Linked DNA regions of Homo sapiens. Each later gene encodes a partner of the first gene's protein in a complex. Each region holds a gene or a part of one and is shown in the gene's direction. Other genes may lie near its edges.

Region 1 (7,765 bases):
CTCTCAGATTCTGATTTCTACCAGTTCTAGATATAAGAGTTAAGAATATAGTTTTATTACGAACTGAAGACAAAGAGCTTATTAAAGAAGTTTAAAGATAATGCCATTGCCGGGCGCGGTGACTCACATCTGTAATCCCAGCATTTTGGGAGGCCGAGGTGGGTGGATCACGAAGTCAGGAGTTCGAGACCAGCCTGGCCAGCATGGTGAAACCACATCTCTACTAAAAATACAAAAAAAGGAGCCAGACATGGTGGTGGGCGCCTGTAATCCCAGCTACTTGGGAGGCTGAGGCAGGAGAATTGCTTGAACCCAGCAGGCAGAGGTTGCAGTGAGCTGAGGTCCCACCACTGCACTCCAGCCTGGGCAAAAGAGCGAGACTCCGTTTCAAAAAACAAAAAAAAGATAATGCCATTTTATTACATTTGTCCACTGTAGTATTTATAATTCATACAATTACTAAATCTAACATAAAATTTAGACCATTATTTTTATAGCTCTTTTGGCACAATGCTTTATCTCAACTCCAAAATTAACTTACTTCACAAAGACAGAGCTGATGAGTTACAAACTTCAACATATATTTTACTTGTCATGAATGAAAGCAATACATACTCATAACTGTCCCCTAGAGGTTTCTTGATACATTTACTGTTACAATGGTATTAATAAGAAGAAATTCTTTTTCTTTGAAATAAGATTACATAGAAGCCATGCCTATATTTTTAAATTGAGAATCTATATTATGTTCAATTGGGTTAGTTGGTTGTATAGATATTTTTATTTACAAAATGTTAATTTATTGGGTACATGTGGAATAAACAGACTGTCCAAGCCAACCAGAACATTTCCAGAGCTGCCAGGGAGATGATTTTCTTTTGTATGACCATATGATGAAATACTGAGATGGATTTTTATGATATAATCAGACATTTAACATTTTTTAGTTTAAGATGTAACGTCTCATATGCTTATGTGTCTCATATGCTTCTTGTCTCAATAATATAAGAAAAATTTTAAGGACACAGTAGAAAAGTTGCATGGAGAAGGCCTACAGTTTTCACATATTTAAGCATCTGTGGTTATGTTCTCAATGGGGTATTTGCCGACAATGTCATCTTATAATGCACATACACATGCTACTACCCTAAATATATACAACTCCATATCTAATGGCCTATAATACTTATTAGTTGCCTGGTAGAGACAAGAAAGTAGAAGATCTAGCCCTTCCATTCCAAGAGCTGATAATATCTATACATCTTTGCCTTCCAACTTAAAAACATTTTCTCTCTCTTAACATAGTCTTGGTCTACTCAAAACCATTGAACGGGTCTTTCAAATTGAAATTGTAGGCTTTGAGCTGTTTTAACAACCAATATCTGTACAATAAAATCAGCAGATCTGAAACATTGATTAAAGTGACTTGGTATCCCGAGTACCTAGAAACTGATGGTCAAGAAGAGGCTATTACTTCCTTTTACCAGCTCCTCACATCTTATATTGCTCTTTCACAGACTGGGATGTAGAAAAGGGGCTGGCCCACCCAACTGCCTGATCTCTCTGAATGCATGTGCTCCATATGCATAAATGGAAAGAATAAATGGAAATGAGGCCACTGTTTTCCTGTGTCAGGACACTGTCAGCATGAGTAGGAATACCAATCGCCAGCCATGCAAGATCTAGTGAGTTCCTATTCCAGTGCTGCTTTCTCTGCTAGATCAGGTGGCAGTTTGCAGAAAAGCAACATCCTGAAAGTTTATTTGCTATTTGCAAGTCAGGGAATATGACTGGGCACAGAAAAATAATCTACTGCTGCTTCAGAAAGTATTTCATAGACATTCTGAGGATGTTGCTTCCACAGGAAGGAAAATATCTGATTTCAGAACTGAAGCATATACAAAGTTGGGGCCAAATCCAATATGGGTCTGTGGTTTACAAACTGTGAGATGTGAAAAAGGATGTGATGGCAGGTCCCATCTGTCTCATTCACCCTAGTTCCTGACATACAGTAGCCATTCAATAATAATTATTGAATAAATGAATAACTGAACAAATAAATGAGCAGACTTCTTAATGACAAAATCATTTTGAAGCATTTTTCTGATCCTTGGTGGTTAAAAGCTTAAGGGAAGACACAGTTCACAGTGATGCTTTTAGACGCAGCTAAATTTTGGTTAAGCAACACCAATATACGAAAATCTGGGTTCACAAAGCAAATACATTACAGTTACTATACTTACTATATGCTTTACAATTAAGTAGAAACATACCTTAATGTAGTGGGTTTCTAAATGCTGGCCCATGATGTCTCCTTAGGTTCACAGTGAAATAAGAAAAATTCGTGTGACGTATTGTTCATTACGAGGCTGTTCAATTCAAGGAACTGTCCTTTATTCAAAAATGGATCTTCCCTCATTTCTGAGGTTAAAATACTTTTTAATAAATGATGGGAATAATCTATGCTAGTTGTTCCTTTTTAATACCCTTGCCAATATAAAGTTGCCAAATCTATAATGACTCCCTAGCTTATCAGAAAATATTTTATTAGTCTGAGAGATCCAAATGTCGGAGACTGGCTTAGTTTCAAAATATGACTCATTTTATAAAAGCATACAAGTGTTTTTTGTTGTTGTTGTTTAGAAACCTACCTATTGAATAAAGGAAGTAGTATAACCTTGGCTTTAATGCCCATGTTAATAACAGCCAACAGGTGGTAAGTTGCTGCTCCATGCCCAGTTCTCAGGGCTCTTTAAAACGTATTCATCTATTTAAATTTCACGGTAGCCCAAGGAGGAAGTATTGTTATTGTCTCCCTTTTACAGATGAGAAATTCTGGGGATTGTCAACTCCATGCCCCAAAAGATGCAAAACACAGCTAGTAAAGTGGCAGAATTGAGATTCAAACAATGGCTCCAAGAACACATATTCTTTTTTAAAATATTTTTTTATTTCTTTTTTTGGTTCCTCAGAGATCCCTATTCTGAACATATATTCTTACATTACAAAGAAACTGGGCCATATGAGAGTACAACCAAGAGAAAAACATTGTTTGTTATTATATTATGTTATGGAAATGGAGGTTCAATTAGCATAGAGATTATAAACTCCTATTCAAGGCTGACATTATCTTACATTGAAGTCAGAGCCTCTCCCAATCTTAGTTTATCAACTCAGTTCTTGATAACCTATTTTTAGCTTCAGTATTTACAGATATTGTCTTAAGCAACATTCTTGTTTCTTAAGCTCCTGCTTTAATTAGCCAATACCAAAAAACTCCCACAAAAAAAAAAAAAAAACAAGAAAATATGGTATTTGCAGTGGGGCGTTTTAAGCAAGAAGGGGCTTTAAGCACAACACTCATAAGCTTAGTCATCAGGATTAAGTTAATTTAGGGCAAATTCAACCTTACAGTCAACAAATAAGTGTATTTCACTTTATATTGTTTGCTATTTAAAAGTATTAAAATTCCAGCTTCTAAATGTAGATATCCATCCCCCAAACATATGCTTCTTTAAAATAGGAAGAACACAAACTTTAATAAGAACTCACGTATTCCCTTGCAGAGTCAGAAACCCAAACATAACAGCAATTGGGCAAGTAGGTAAATGAGGAAGTACAATTCATAACAAATGGACAGCAAAACCGATAAGTCAAATTAGACATTTTGACTATAAAGCGACCAAACGCCTCTCCTCCAAAACCAAAAGCCAAAACCTTTTCAAATATACAGCAACTGAATCAGACGGTAATTTTGGCTTTAAAAATCTACAATACTCTTGGTAATGGTAGAAATGATTTATCCGGTAGGTTAAAGATAGGTTTCTATCATTCCACTTAACATTATTTACCAAATGCTGCATTTCATTAATGGAGCTGTCAGTTTATTCTGATGGTAATGAAAAACAGGTTTTAACATGAATAAGCCCTGGGTCCACCAGAAAATATCAGTGAATCAAGAGGTCCCGAAGCTTATGCAGTTTAAGGGAACTTCGTAGATTAAATTTCCACCTTCCAGTCCTGAGAGCTGTGGTGTGCACACCCAGTCCGAATACCTTGTTGAGCATACAGGACACTAATTTCCGACACTGCAGCTAACTCCTGCACAAACTCTTCAAGTTGCAGGCTTCTACTCAAGTACCCATCCCTAGTCCACATGCCCTAGAAAAACACAGGAACCAGTTCGGGACGTAGTTACACATCTAGCACCCCACGCTCCTCCTCAAGACTATCCTCCTGCTGTCCCAGCCCAGTGGGGCCCAGCCCACTACCATCCCGCTCCCGCTCTCCGAACTTCCCCCCTCCCACTCCCCACCATGTGACCAGGACCCTCCCAACCGCCGCTCCGAGCTCCACCAATCAGCAACCACCTCCACCCAGAACCCGGGACCTGGCGCTCCACTTTCAAAAAGGCAGCTTAATCCTCCCGCCCTCAGCCACGCCCCCTTTCCGCTTCCCCGCCCCGCCGGCCCCTCCCACTTCCTTCAGTTCCCTGTTCCCCTCCTCCCCTCCGGTGGCGCCCACCCTCTCCCGGGCTTCGCCCCGCCCACCAGGGGGGCAGCGCGCTCGCCCTCTTCTCGCGAGATCTGAGCGTCCCCCGCGGCGGCCGCCGGGCTCCCCCTCCCGTCCTCCCACCTCCCTCCCCCGGCATCTCTCACTCTCCGGCTCTCCTCCCTCCCTCCTCCCCCCTCCACCCTCTGGGCCGGATCTCGTCTCGCTCAGGCGGAGGAGGAGAAGGAGGAGGAGGAGGACGACGTTCGGCCTGCGCAGTGAGATGTTTGTCCGTCGCCGCCGCCGCCGCCATCGCGGAGGAGCGCGATAAAGGGAGCCGAGCCGGACGTGAGGGGGACCCCGCGGAGCCGCCGCGCCAGCGCAGCCCCCCAGCCGCATCGGAGTCGCCAGAGTCCGAGCCGCCGCCGCCGCCGCCGCCGCCCCCGCCGCCGCCGCGGCTGCCCAGGGGCCGGCCAGCTCCCCAGCCCTGCCCGGGGGTCGCGCCGCCGCCGCCCCCAGCGTCGCCCCTAGCCTGCCTGCCCGCCTTAAATGTGACACCGGCGTCGCGGAGCGCGACCTGAAGCCGCCGCCGGGGAGGGGACGAGCACCATGTCGAATCTGAGCAAAGGCACGGGCAGCCGGAAGGACACCAAGATGCGGATCCGGGCCTTTCCGGTGAGTCTCTCCTCGGCGTCCGGGACCCCGGGGCCGGGGGCCGGGCCGAGAGCCGCACGCGAGGCCCGGGCTGAAGTCCCCCAACAGGCCGCAGGCCCGGCCTCCCCTCCCCCACGCCCGCCGGCCGCGGGGCGCGAGCCTTCCCGGCAACCGGGCGGCGCGGGGCCCCGGCGCGGCCGCCCTCCCGGGCCGTTCCCCGCGCCGGGAGCCCGGGCCTGGCGCCGCGCCCCCGTCCGGGAGCTGCTCCTTCAGCCGCTCCGCGGGCGTCGGCTGCGGCCGGGGCCCCTCGGCCGCCCCACGCCTCCCCACGTTGCCGGGGTTGTAGGCCCAGTCTCCGGCGCTGCTAGCAGCCGCGGAGTCCTCCCTGTGTGGGGCGTGTGTGGAACTTTTCACGTGGGGTTTCGCTACACTTTGAAAATTTACCCAGCCTAGCTTTTAGGGTGATGAAGGGGCTGCCCTCTCTCTCTGCCCCCCTCCCCAGGAAGGTCTATGCCATCAACCTGCCCCCGACGCAGTGACAGTGGTTCCACGGAATGCTCCGTGGTCATAAACTAGTAACATTGGGTGTATTTATAGCGTCTTTCATCCTACAAGCTTCCTAAGCACTTTACAAACTCTTGTGCAGGATTGCCTCGCCACTCGGAGGAAGGCCGGGTGGGGGGGAAGCAACAGAGAGCAAACCGGCCAATTGGTTCTCCATTTCTCAGCCTTGGGAGCCCAAAGAATGAGTGTAGTCGCCTTGCGGAGTAGCTTTGTTTCATCGCTTTCAGTGACAGCAAACGTGTTCTGCTCAGAAACTTTTTCTTTTTTGGCATTACGTTGAGTCGTACCCTTGCGATGTTTAGTATATAGGATATAACTTTGGGTGTCAAATCTGGTTCAGCTTCCCCGTGGCAAGCAATTAAAATGTACTGTTAACGAACTGGGCATACTTGCCTATGTCGCTACAATAAAAGGCATACGTCAAGACAGACGAACTAGCAATCGGACAGAAGATTTTAAAAAGTAAAATTAGAGAAAGATCTTGGTCTTCCCTTCTTAGATTCATAAATACTTCATATGATGTACCAGCGAAAGAGGGGGATTTGTTGTCACTTTTTAAAGCATGCTTTTCCTGAAGCGCAGTTGCAGTGAGGAAAGACTTACCTTGATGTGATTGCCCCAGTTGAGTCAAGTGATTTAGTTTCAGAGAACATGAGGACCTCTCTGAATTCCTAAAATTTAAAAGGATACACCTCATGCAGAATTCTGAAATTGTAAGAACATAAATACTAAAGTCAGTGTGCGAAAACCTCTGCTTTGTGTAAATAGGTACGATGGAATTTAGGAGAATAAGTGTTTTGATAATAATTAAAGATTTTTTGAATGTTTCAAACTTTTTTCTAAGTAAACGTGAGAAATGTTGACAAGCGAGTACTAACGAAGCTTACTAGTATGTTTTCCCTTATAATTGGGCAGAGCTGGGTTATGCATTTGTGAGTGATATTAATTTTCCTACTAAATTCTGACCACTTTAGAGTTTAGAATTACTTAGAATTTTATGAAGTTAATAGTTGTATACAACAGATTTTCTTTTTTTTTGAGACAAGAGTTTCGCTCCTGTTGCCCAGGCTGGAGTACAATGGCGTGATCTCAGCTAACCGCAACCTCCGCCTCCTGGGTTAAAAGCCTCCTGAGTAGCTGGGATTACAGGCATGCGCCACCACACCGGGCTAATTTCGTATTTTTAGTAGAGACGAGGTTTCTCCATGTTGGTCAGGCTGGTCTCGAACTCCCGACCTCAGGTGATCACCGACCTCGGCCTCCCAAAGTGCTGGGATTACAGGAGTGAGCCACCGCGCCAGGCCTATATACAACAGATTTTCTAGCAGTGTGTGCAGCCTTACACTACTCAATTCTTGAAGTCTCATGTTCTAAATAAGATTTTTTGCTAAAATGTGGAGTAACTCAAATTTGACATCAACTCACTCAAGTTAATGGCCTTCTGATTGACCAGTTGTACGTTAATGTATGTGTAATTAAACTCTTTGACCTCTTCAGGTTTCCCTGCTCTTACCTGTTTTGCCATCATTTAATTTGTTCAGCAAATACTGAATATTATGTGCCAGGCACTGTTCTGGGGGTCTGTCAGTATAGCTAGAAAGACCAAGATCCCTGCCTTTTGGAGCTAATATTGTTGGGGAGAAGAGGTGGGAGAGAATTTCATTATTCCTTTAGCTGACCAGTATAATAACGTTGTGTGATACGTTACCACATAGTACTGGAACTGAATTTTTTTTTGTTAGCTTCGTTATGATTATGAGCTAATTTGGATCCATTCTGTCTATAACTTTTGCAGGTTTTTCTGAAAACCTTACATGAAGTAAGTGACTAGTTTTGGTATTCAGTAGTTAATAGCTGCTGATTTCTAAAAGAATTTTTCATTACTGTTTAATAAGTATTAATAACATTCCTAAGTGATTCCCATTGGAAAGAACTATTACAGTTTATGGCCCTTTGTTACAGATAGATGTATATCTCAGTGTTAGGGTGTTTCATAGATTTATCTTACTAACCGTGTGCTTATAGACCTTCAAAATTCCTGTCTTCCAGATTGGCA
Region 2 (6,867 bases), on another chromosome or scaffold:
TTTGGGAGGCCGAGGTGGGCAGATCACCCGAGGTCAGGAGTTCGAGACCAGCCTGACTAACATGGTGAAACCCTGTCTCTACTAAAAATACAGAAATTAGCTGGCGTAGTGGCAGGTGCCTGTAATCCCAGCTACTCAGGAGGCTGAGCCGAGATCCCGCCATTGCACTCCAGCCTGGGTGACAGAGCAAGACTCCGTCTCAGAAAAGAATTAAAAAAAAAAAAAAAAAATCACCCTGCGCAACATGATGAATCCCCCTCTTTACTAAAAATACAAAAAAAATTACCTGGACGTGGTAGTGTGTGCCTGTAGTCCCAGCTACTCAGGAGGCTGAGGCAGAAGAATCAGTTGAGCCCAGGATGCAGCAGTTGCAGTGAGCCAAGATCATGCCACCATGCCACTGCACTCCAGCCTGGGCGAAAGAGCAAGACTATTAAAACAAAACAAAAAACAAACAAACAAACAAAAACCAAACTTTCTCTTTTTCTGACCGGGACAGAGGAGTTTGTAATAATGCAAGCTGTTACTTGCAACCCTAACGCAAGCTGTCCTAAAGCAAGCTGTCACTTGCACCCACTGGCTATTCAGAGATCAGGGAGAATATTCTCACTGGTCATAAAGCCAAGCTCTCAGGACACAAATAAAACAAACAGGAAAGAGGTAGCTGTGCCTGGGAGGAAAGGATCAATAACAAACAGTTACCCCTCAACCAAATTTAAGCAAGAGTCACAATCCAGACACAATGTTTTCTTCTGCTAATTTGAATTTGGAAAGGAAGGGACAAGAAGTTTTTACCTTCCACTCTCAGCTGAGTACTACAGGCAGTGATATGGGACAGTTAACCTTGGTAAGAATGCTTACCTTTTGCCAGTTGTCCCAAGTGGGGTGTCTTTGCCACCCCACTTGTTTGTTGGGTGCCAGAAAGAGTAGGGGGAAAAGGTAATATTTTTTCCTCACGCATCACAAGGTTCCTGGTTGACACCCCTCTAACAAAGGACAGATTAACAAGAGAAAAGCATATCAATTTATTTAATATAAATTTTATATGACACAGTAGCCTTCAGAAAAAAGCCCCAGTGTCTAGTGAGGGGTCCGTTCTCTGCTTTTTTTTTTTGAGACGGAGTCTTGCTCTGTCACCCAGGCTGGAGTGCAGTGGCGCGATCTCAGCTCACTGCAAGCTCTGCCTCCCGGGTTCACGCCATTCTCCTGCCTCAGCCTCCCAAGTAGCTGGGACTACAGGCGCCCACCACCATGCCTGGCTAATTTTTTGTATTTTTAGTAGAGATGGGGTTTCACCATGTTAGCCAGGATGGTCTTGATCTCCTGACCTCATGATCCTCCCACCTCGGCTTCCCAAAGTGCTGGGATTACAGGCGTGAGCCACTGCGCCCAGCCGATTCTCTGCCTTGAAGATGGTGCTTATTACAGTGTCCTCACCTGGCAAAAGTGGGGGATGAGCTCCTTCGAACCTCTTTTATACACTGATCCCATGGTGAGGACTTCACCCTCATGACCTAAACCCCTCCCAAAGGCCCTACTTTATAATAGTATCGCACTGAGGATTCAGTTCCAACATATGAATTTTGGGGGTACCGACATTCAGACCACAGTGGCCTTCTTGTTGCTGCCCCAGGATTCCTTTTCCTCTCCTCTCTGGGTCCACCCGTACACCTGGTCCCATTGGGCCTTGGAGGTCAGTCTTCCCCTACCTGGAGCCAAGGGGGGCCTCATCTTCCCCCAGACCTGCTCTTGCTCTGGCTCCCCTGTAGGCAGGGTGGGCCTACTTCCCCACCCATCTCCTGGGCTCATTCTTCACACATCACTGGGCTTATACTGGGGAACCTGCTTCCTTCCCAGGTTTCTAGCCTGCTCCACTCTGGTCTTCACTCCCTGCCTGAGACCACAGCACTGTGGCTGGCTCCCTACTCAGTCTTCGTCTCTACCATATTGGCATCTGCCCACCCTGGCTACAGGGTGCCCTCAGGGCTAAGTCAAGCCTCCAAAGGGCAGGGTCTGCTCTCCAACCTTCCCTTCAGGCTCAGAAAATTCTGGAAACCTCCACACCACTCACTTTGAAGGATCTCACCTCCACGTTTGCTGACACTGTCGGCTTCCTGGAATGCTTTTCTTAATCCCAAAGTCCTCCTCTGTTACACAGTAGGGGGGTCTCCTCCAGAAAGTCTTTCTAGGAGGAAGCCCACTCCCATTTGGAACCTCTGCCTCTGGAGGCCAATCCCGTTCTCTTGATCCTTGTCTGGGACCCTCAGTTATCTCTCTGGACTCAGCCAGGACAGCAATTCTCTTCCGTGTATTTTCCTCCTTTTACATTCCCCTTCCACCAATTTTTTTTTTTTTTTTTTTTTTTTTTTTTGAGACGGAGTCTCGCTCTGTCACCAGGCTGGAGTGCAGTGGCGCGTGATCTCGGCTCACTGCAACCTCTGCCTCCCGGGTTCAAGCGATTCTCCTGCCTCAGGCTCCCGAGTAGCTGGGACTACAGGTGCGCGCCACCACGACCGGCTAGTTTTTTTGTGTGTGTTTTGGTAGAGATGGGGTTTCACCATGTTGGCCAGGATGGTTTCCATCTCCTGACCTCGTGATCCGCCCGTCTCGGCCTCCCAAAGTGTTGGGATTACAGGCGCCAGCCACCAAGCCCGGCCCCACCTTTCTTTTTAACCATGAGCCATCTCCAGCCACATCCTCCCCCTACCACTCTCTCCACCCTTCACAGTCCCTCTCAAAACCACAGTGTGGGACACTCCAACCTTATCCCATCAGGAGGCTCTGTGGCTCCAAGCTCTGGGCGCAGCCATTACGGATACGCCTCGGAGGATGGGACCTGCTCGAAGGTGAGGTGGAGAACAATGAATGCCAAGACCCGCGCACGGACCTCTGGGACCAGGCTTTAAGACTGGGAATTAGATTTACTGCAAAATCTCAGTAAAGGAACGGGCACACAAACTAGCACCTGTTCACTCTGGCGGTGTTAAGCGATTCTCCCCGATATCCCGCAGGGGGCGCGCTACGGTCAGCGGCACCGACCGCGGAGGGAGCGGGGAAGGAGCAGGCCGCGGGAGGGAGGGAATGAGCGCGTGACGAAGGGAACAAGTGGAGGAGAGGAGGAAAGAAGGGAATCAAAGAGGGAGGGAGGCAATGGGAGAAGAGGAGAGGGAGGGAGGGAAAGAAGGGGGGAAATGAGACAGGGAGGGAAGGAATGAGAGAGGGAGGAGAGAACGAGAGTTAAGGAGGGAGGGAAAGGGAATGAGAGAGGGAGGGGATGAGAGGGGGAGACAGGGAGGGAGTGAATGAGTGAGGGAGGAAGGGAATGGTGGGTAAGATAGGAAGGGAAGGAATGAGAGAGTGAAGGAGGGAGGGAATGAGAGGGGGGGAGTAAGAGAGGAGAGAAGAGAGTGAAGAAGGGAATGAGGAAAGGAGAGGGAGGATATGAGCGGGGAGGGAGATAGTGAGGAAGGGCAGGAGGAAGTGAGTCGAGGAATGAGGGTAGGACCGAGGCAAGGAAAGAGTCAATGGATTCAGACGGGGCGACTCTCGGCAAATTCGCTCATTCGTTGGTTCGGCCCCGCCAAGTGCCAGGTGCCGCGCTAGTGCGGGGACTCACTGAGCCTTGGCGATCGCTGCTGTCCTCCGCAGAGCGCCGGAGTGGAGCCGCCCCCTGTCTCCCCGCCCCAGGGCCGCCCCCGCGCTGCTACCCGGCCAGGCCGGGAACCCCCGGGCCTACGTCTGGCCCGCCCGGCGCCTGCGCGGCGCACCCACGTGACGGCCCAGGCCCCCGCCCCGCCGGCTCCTCTCGCCCAGCCTCCCGCCTCGCGCCTCCCGCCTCCCGCCTCCCGCCTCCCTCCAGCTGCGAGTGCGGCCTCGGCTGGCGGCGGCACCAGGTCAGCTGCGAGGCGTGAGCCGAACGGGCCGGGCGGCAGCGAACGCGGGGGTCGGGCGGCAAGCAGGCATCGCTGGGCCGGGGACAAGCTAGCGGCGCGGAGTCCGAGGGGCGCGGGGGCGGGCGCGGGCCGGAGGCTCGGGGGCGGCGACCTGAGGAGAGCCCGCGGCCTGACGTGGCGGGGACGCGGCCGGCGGGATCCCCGGGCGCGGGCGCGTAGGGGCCGGGATCTGGCGCTCGGCCAGGGGCCAGGGTGCGAGGCCTCCTCAGCGCGGCTGCTGGCGCGCCGGCCTCCTGGCACCCGGGCGGGCCCTGTTGCCTGCGGCAGGTCCGAATGCGGCCTTCCTGGCCGCGACCCTCCGCGCTGGAGCGGGCGGCCTTGCAACAGGCGGGCGATTTGGGGCCGGCCTGACGAGCCTCAGTTCCCTCGATCGGGCCCGGGGACTGCAGCCGTAGGAGCCCAGCCTTGCCAGCTCTCCCGGTTTCCTGAGAGGAGCCGGAGATCGCGCTGTCAGTGCAAAATCACCAGAGCGCGAAGCGTCGGCTGCCAGTTCTGACCATTTTAGATCCGGTGCGGGCCGAGCCGAGTGGATCTGGGGCGGGCAGCGGGGCACCGCCACCTTCCGCCTGGGCTCCTCACTGGGCGCCCTCGCTCCGGCCCTCCGCGGGGCCGAGTGCCTCCAAGACGGCTCCCTGGGAGATTCTTCCAGAGCGCACCCTTTGGAAGGCTGCCCCGCTGGGAATCAGCACCCACTCCCTCTCCTCTACCGCAGCCGCCCCCTTTGCCTTTGTGGCCGACCTTGCTTCATGCTGCCAAGGATTGAGTTTCTTTGAGGGGATACTGCTCGTTCGGGGGCCCTACAGAAGGCTGAGGGTATCTACTCAGTAAAATCGTACCGAACTGAAAGTTCCTCTGAAATGATTTTGACTCTGCCATCCATCACTTCATAAAAATTCATCTTGTATCCTTCAGTTTGTAGCTATGTGGCACATTAAGCTTCCTTTCTTCTCCCCACTGAAACTTCGAACAGTACAAAACGGGGAACTTGGCTTGTGATGACTAAAATTGGGGATATGAGACTGGGGGCGGGCGCGGTGGCTCATGCCTGTAATCCCAGCACTTTGGGAGGCCAAGGCTGGCAGATCACCTGAGGTCAGGAGAGACTAGCCTGGCCAACATGGTGAAACCCCGTCTCTACTAAAAATACAAAAATTAGCTGGGTGTGGTGACACGTGCTTGTAATCCCAGCTACTCGGGAGGCTGAGGTAGGAGAATCGCTTGAACCCAGGAGATGAAGGCTGCAGTGAGCCAAGACCCTACCACTGCACTCTAGCCTACACCATATAGTGAAACCTCTTCTCTACAAAGAAAATTTGAAAAATTAGCCGGGCGCAGTGGTGAGCTCCTGTTGTTCCAGCTTCTGAGGAAGCTGAGGTGGGAGGATCACTTGAACCTGGGAGCTTGAGACTGCAGTGAACCCCAAGCTGTCTCACCCCAGATAGCCAGGACTACAGGTGTACACCACCATGCCTAGTTAATTTTTAAATTTTTTGTAGAGAAAGGGTCGCGCTATATTGCCCAAGGTGGTCTTGAACTCCACCTACCTGGACCTCCCAAGGCACTGGGATTACAGGCATGAGCCACCATGCCCAGCCTACTTTGCACTTTTTTTTTTGGGGGGGGGGCAAAGTCTGGCTCTGTCGCCCAGGCTGGAGTGCAATGGCACAATCTTGGCTCACTGCAACCTCCACCTCCTGGGTTCAATCGATTCTCCTGCCTCAGCTTCCCCCTTCCTCAGCCTTCCCAGTAGCTGGGATAACAGGCATGCGCCACCACGCCCCACTAATTTTTGTATTTTTAGTAGAGATGGGGCTTCCTCATGTTGGCCAGGCTGGTCTTGAACTCCTGACCTCAGGTGATCCTCCCACGTTGGCCTCCCAAAGTGCTGGGATTACAGGCATGAGCCACTGTGCCCAGCCTACTTTGCACATTGTTTTTTTGTTTGTTTTTTTGTTTTTGAGACGGAGTCTCGCACTGTCATGCAGGCTGGAATGCAGTGGCGTGATTCTCCTGCCTCAGCCTCCCAAGTAGCTGGGATTATAGGCACCTACCACCATGCCCGGCTAATTTTTTTGTATTTTTAGTAGAGATGGGGTTTCACTATGTTGGCCAGGCTGGTCTTGAACTCCTGACCTCGTGATTCATCCGCCTCAGCCTCCCGAAGTGTTGGGATTACAGGCGTGAGCCACTGCGCCCGGCCACTTTGCGCATTTTGACTGTTGCCTAATGTTCTGTCAGATCACTGTGCCATGACATCTGTTCTCCTGAGGGTGGACGTTTTGGTGATTTAAAACCGTATAGATGTGGTTTTAAATGTTTTAAATGTTGCACCCTGTGCTGTGCTCCTTCCCAGCAGAGAATTGATTCATTTTTCAGCATATCCCCCTTAGCCCCTAGCTAAGTTTCTTAAATTGGACTTGGTAAATGTGCTTTGCCTGCCCATGGAAGATGTCTTTCTGTTTTACCGTACTTGTTTTTGCAGTATGGGTTTAGGGAGTAGCTGCCATTTATCCCTTCCCAAGAGAGCAGAGGCACTACTATGCTCACGGAAGGTGAGGATCCACCTGGGGGCTTGATGTCTATTGGGGTAGTTGTGGAGGTCACCCTCAGAGAAGGAGGCCCTCTTGACTCTGCGGTGGTCATGGTGGTGATGAGAAAGCTGAGGCGTGGGTATATGAGACAAGTGCCCAGAGTCTGTCATTAGCAAGTGGTACAGCCAGCCATGGGGGCTTTTGAGATGTTTGTGAGATAAAACCTCACCCCTCAAGAAGCCGGAATCTCCTTGTCGTGGGTAAATAGGCAGGTTTGGGCCGGGCGCGGTGGCTCATGCCTGTAATCCCAGCACTTTGGGAGGTCAAGGCAGATGGATCACCTGAGGTCAGGAATGCGAGACCAGCCTGACCAACATGGTGAA
Region 3 (4,119 bases), on another chromosome or scaffold:
TTTAATTATTCACAGCACCCCATTTTACTCAGAAGTGTTCTGGTCTGGAGGATAAATAAGAGGTCACCCTCCTCCAGACCCAAAGATAGATTTGTGCCTGTGTTGGATGGGGTCGTGTGTGATTCAGATGGACATTGGATGGCTTCAAAGGAATATACCACTAGAGCTGGCCCTTGGCACTTTGTGACAGTGGTCAAGTCTGTCTAATGTCCTTGTCTTCTTTTTCTTGTGCTTTCCCCCTATTCCAGGGTGTGCACCCTCTCCCCAACCCCCAAGAACCCCACTACTGCTTTCCCTGTGAGGTAGGAGATATCAGTGGGCCTTGGATTTGAGGCTTCCTAAGATGTGCTTGCATTTTAAAAAGGGAGCTTGGTGAGAGCTTTGCTAATTCACAGGTAAAAATTATTAACAATAGAACTTCAAGCATCTTGAGGAGCGGGCATTTGAGGGGGCATGGAGTAATTTGTATTTAAAAAACCTTAAAGTTGTGCTGTTCCTAAACTAGCAAATTGCTCATGCTGAAATTTCTGGCATAAGCAGGGGAAGTCTTGTGTCTGGAGAATAGTCTCATACCTTGCAGTCTGGGACACCCTCCCTACTTTGAGAATCCACCTACAGGAAGCCAAGGAACTTTATAAATCCTGATGTTGGACTTCTGATACGACTGGGCTACTTCCAAGCAGGTGCTGCAGGAGATTGGCATCCCCCAGCCCCTGCAGTTAGAAACCCCGAAGTCTTCCCAGCCAGTGAGCCACTTTGTGTATTTACTGTATATTTATTGTGCCCTAAATGTGCAACTCTCCTAAAGACAAAACTTCTCTTTCTGATGTTAAGCACATGTTACTTCAACAAGATGCTTGGAGAACAACAAGGTACCCAGAATTTTTAGAAGCCTTCAGAAGAGGCTAAAATATCCAGCTTTGGGGGACCTGGAAGAAATGTCTCCAAAGGAAGCAAGGCATGTTTTAGTTGAGTGCTCTGGTCTCACTATGAAGTGGGGATGACTGTGGCTTCATAACTCTACCTGGCTGTGGGTTGGAAGCTGATGGAATGAGAAATGTCCTTTCTCCTTCTCTGAGGAAATTTTGAGACTTGTTTCGGTGTGTCTGTGTGATGGGGATGAGGCTGGGGTTGGGATCTGATGTATGCCATTCACAGAAGCTCTCAATTTCAGATGATAGGTGAATTCCCTGCCCCTCCCCCACCACTGAGAAGCTAGACTTTCATGCGGGAGAGGCTACTTTTATGTGTCGTCTTCCGGGGAAGGGTCCCTCCACTGAAAGCTAGCCAGTCATGTTTTCTGTTTTTGGATTTTTGCAATTGGTTTCACCTCATGTCTCCCTCCCTACAAAGCACTGCCTCTACTGGGCGTGCTGCCAAGGCCATGTGCACTCCATCCTCATGTATCCTTTTTCACGGGGACCAGAACACTGGTACGTCATCACCAAAGCCAATCTGCTCTAGCTGCCCACAGATGCCACCAAAACCTGCTATCTCTTCATCACCAGGTACGATTCTCTTTCCACAGTGGACACAGCAGGCTATTTTCTAGTTTGTGCTGGTCACGTGGTAGATGAAGCCTCTTACTGCCCCACTTAGGGTGGCCACGGCTGCTTGTGAATGCAGCTTTGCCAGTGGCATATCTGTCATCTGATTGCGGTGGTGAAATGGAATTGAGGCCCAAGGTTAGAAGCAGCCGAGACGCCACTTGGATACTGATTTGAACAATGTAGAAGTCAGATTCTGAATTCCAAAGTTATTTCTCATAAGTACCCAATGGCATCTCTCCATCTACAAAGTTGCAGTATTATGCAAATAAAACTGACCTCATTTTCTGCTATGCAATAAGAATACTTAATTCTAGTTCCCGACAAGCCAGTTGCAATATCCCCTAAGATGCTTTTTGAGCTGTCTTACTTTGATATCTGTTGTGTAATGTTTGTATATTTCTGAGCCAGATCCTTTCAAAGATTGCCTTTTTATAAAATTGAAGCTATAGCTTTTAGGCTAAAATTTTAACGTAGATATTTTTATAAGATATTTTTTTCAAGAGTTTGAATCGCTTTTTATTGTCCATGATAATGAAATGTTGTGTTCTTTGCATCATTCACTCTCAAACGTAGTTCATGCCTGTAGCTCTCTTCCTTTTGTTTCTCACCCTTCAGAAACATATTTTTCAGTAGCTCCAGGTAGATGAGCCTTTTTTTTTTTTTTAAAAATACCATATTCAAGGGAGTCTGCTGAATTTTAAAACGCAGTCACTGGTGTTTCTTGAATTGCTAGGGACTGATGTTATGTTCGACTCAGCACTTGCCCGTCTGTATTGATTGTGTCTTTTTTTTTTTTTTTGGAGTCTGCTTTCTGTGGGGGTGAGGCCGGGCTGTCTCGTGGTGGCTCCCACTGACGGGCACTGAGCCTGGTACCCTGTGGCATGGAGAAGCCTCAGGGAAAGGCCTGCCCCCCCAGCACATACTCCCATAGTGTCCTAGGTCCAGCCGACCATTCCTTATTCTCTTCTATCTCCTTGTTGATCTGAAGCTTCCAATAGCTTGAGGCCTTTGCTGCTGGATGATGCCCTTTTTGGGAGCATCTTGTCTCTAACCTTTAAAAGAGGGGTCAATCCTCATGATCCCTGTGTGTTAAGCATATGCTTTGCAGGTGCTCACACTACACTTACAACTTGCTTCTTGAGCTATGTCTCTACTCCAGGCTCTGTTTTGTGTATTTATCTGCCATTTGCATCATGGTTTTTAAAATTTATTATTATTATTATTATTGTTGGGACAGGTGCCATTTAAATTGCCTCCATGCTCCCCATTTGCACCTAGCTGGATCAAGTTGGGAGGCTGAGCAAACTCATATTCCAGTTAGTTGGAGTTTTTAAAGGCTCTGTTTGCCTGGAGAAGCAAGGAGGTTAGAATGTAATTTTTTTAAGCGTTTGCACTATTTAGAGTCCTAAGCCCCTCATGTTCAGCTGTGCTGTGTTTCTACTGACCAAGCAGGAGAGCCAGCAGCACTTCCAGCATTTGGGAATGGAAGAGATTTCTTCTGTAGTGGATAATTACAGCCTCATAGCCCCTGTGCAGCCTTCGTCATGGGACTCAGTGACTCATGGATATAGCATCAGCCATGGCAGGAATGCACAGGACTGTGGCATTTGCAGCATCAAATCACCCTAGTGCCATGTTTGGTTATGAGATTGTAAATTATTCGCTCCCCCATCCTCCCCTCCCCTCATTTTCAGTGGCAATAGAGGACCCTTGTTGTACTTCTTGTTTAATTTGCATATTATGTGTAAAATGCTTTCGTTGAAAGAAAACTGAAGACACTGAATGTGTATGTCTGTGTGGGTGCTCTGTCCCTGTGGTTGTCATAGCCAGTCAGACTTGATCACTGACACCCCGTACAACATATTGCATAGGTAAGATCCTCGATCTGGTGTTCTCTGCGTGGCTGTTAGGGACTGTATATCTTGTAAAAGAACACTTGTCACATGCTTGATCAGTTACAGCAATAGCTGAAGAAACATTTCCTCAAATGTATTATTTTAACAGGAATCATGTTCTAATTTCCCATCCTTTAATTTTAATAAAAGCTGAACTGTGTGAACTTTTCTCAGTATTTCATTTCTATAGTCCAGTCTCTCTGCTATGTCTCAAACATGAAAAGGACAGACTTATTCCTGTATGTCTTTGGATTAAAAAAAATTTTAAGATCTACTGGACAATATCTGGGTTCCTTGGTTTCCATCACTCACCCTAGCAGAGTGCCAGACCCACAAAGACCTTCAATGAGGCCAAGAGAGGACAGTCCCTCCAGGGGGTATTAAGTGGTGTGCACAACTGCCAGATAATCACTGGGAACCACTGAGAGTCAGGGTTGGTGGGGAAGATGGCTAGCTCAGCTGGGCATCACCATTTGGGAGGGAAGCCTTGTATGAAGTGGGAGGGGGTGGATGCCTGGCTCAGCTGTAACTTCTCAAAGCCTCCTGCTCAGAGACCTTAGCTCCCTCTCTAGTTAACAAACCAGTCCCAGGCCCTTTTGGGATGTCAGTAGCTCTGGCCTGTACCAGGTGACAGATGGACAGCACAGAGGTGTTGGACTTATCTTCAAGCTGGA

Evidence for each region. The genes of interacting proteins can lie anywhere in the genome.
Region 2: the proteins of CUL3 (region 1) and KLHL22 are in contact, whole or in part, in a cryo-EM structure (PDB 8K8T), measured with the Homo sapiens proteins. Residues at the interface, in NP_003581.1 of Homo sapiens: Thr14 (codon at 5,140), Arg17 (codon at 5,149), Ile18 (codon at 5,152), Arg19 (codon at 5,155), Ala20 (codon at 5,158), Phe21 (codon at 5,161), Pro22 (codon at 5,164), Met23, Met25, Asn49, Ser50, Gly51, Leu52, Ser53, Phe54, Glu55, Tyr58, Tyr62, Leu66, Met118, Asp121, Ile122, Met124, Tyr125, Arg128, Val129, Gln133; in NP_116164.2 of Homo sapiens: Asp73, Tyr74, Arg76, Gly77, Met78, Gly81, Gly82, Leu83, Lys84, Glu85, Leu92, Ile93, His94, Leu117, Gln121, Val125, Cys128, Gln129, Gln131, Pro133, Trp146, Glu150, Asn151, Asp154, Val155, Arg157, Leu161, Phe162, Asp163, Ser165.
Region 3: the proteins of CUL3 (region 1) and KLHL3 are in contact, whole or in part, in a crystal structure (PDB 4HXI), measured with the Homo sapiens proteins. Residues at the interface, in NP_003581.1 of Homo sapiens: Ile44, Asn49, Ser50, Gly51, Leu52, Ser53, Phe54, Glu55, Leu57, Tyr58, Arg59, Tyr62, Thr63, Leu66, Lys68, Met118, Asp121, Ile122, Met124, Tyr125, Arg128, Val129, Gln133; in NP_059111.2 of Homo sapiens: Pro73, Tyr74, Ala77, Met78, Asp82, Met83, Ser84, Glu85, Glu92, Ile93, Lys94, Asp95, Pro125, Ser128, Leu129, Gln131, Met133, Arg136, Asp160, Val161, His162, Thr163, Thr165.

Annotation. Positions count from the first base shown.
Region 1 is NC_000002.12:224,582,345-224,590,109, reverse strand, and holds the start of CUL3 (cullin-3), read left to right. Parts: upstream 1-4,746; 5' UTR 4,747-5,100; coding exon 5,101-5,166; intron 5,167-7,765. UniProt on the Homo sapiens protein: Core component of multiple cullin-RING-based BCR (BTB-CUL3-RBX1) E3 ubiquitin-protein ligase complexes which mediate the ubiquitination and subsequent proteasomal degradation of target proteins.
Region 2 is NC_000022.11:20,492,786-20,499,652, reverse strand, and holds the start of KLHL22 (kelch-like protein 22), read left to right. Parts: upstream 1-3,857; 5' UTR 3,858-3,893; intron 3,894-6,088; exon of another isoform or gene 6,089-6,394; coding exon of another isoform or gene 6,395-6,505; intron 6,506-6,511; exon of another isoform or gene 6,512-6,867. UniProt on the Homo sapiens protein: Substrate-specific adapter of a BCR (BTB-CUL3-RBX1) E3 ubiquitin ligase complex required for chromosome alignment and localization of PLK1 at kinetochores.
Region 3 is NC_000005.10:137,616,990-137,621,108, reverse strand, and holds the end of KLHL3 (kelch-like protein 3), read left to right. Parts: 3' UTR 1-3,609; downstream 3,610-4,119. UniProt on the Homo sapiens protein: Substrate-specific adapter of a BCR (BTB-CUL3-RBX1) E3 ubiquitin ligase complex that acts as a regulator of ion transport in the distal nephron.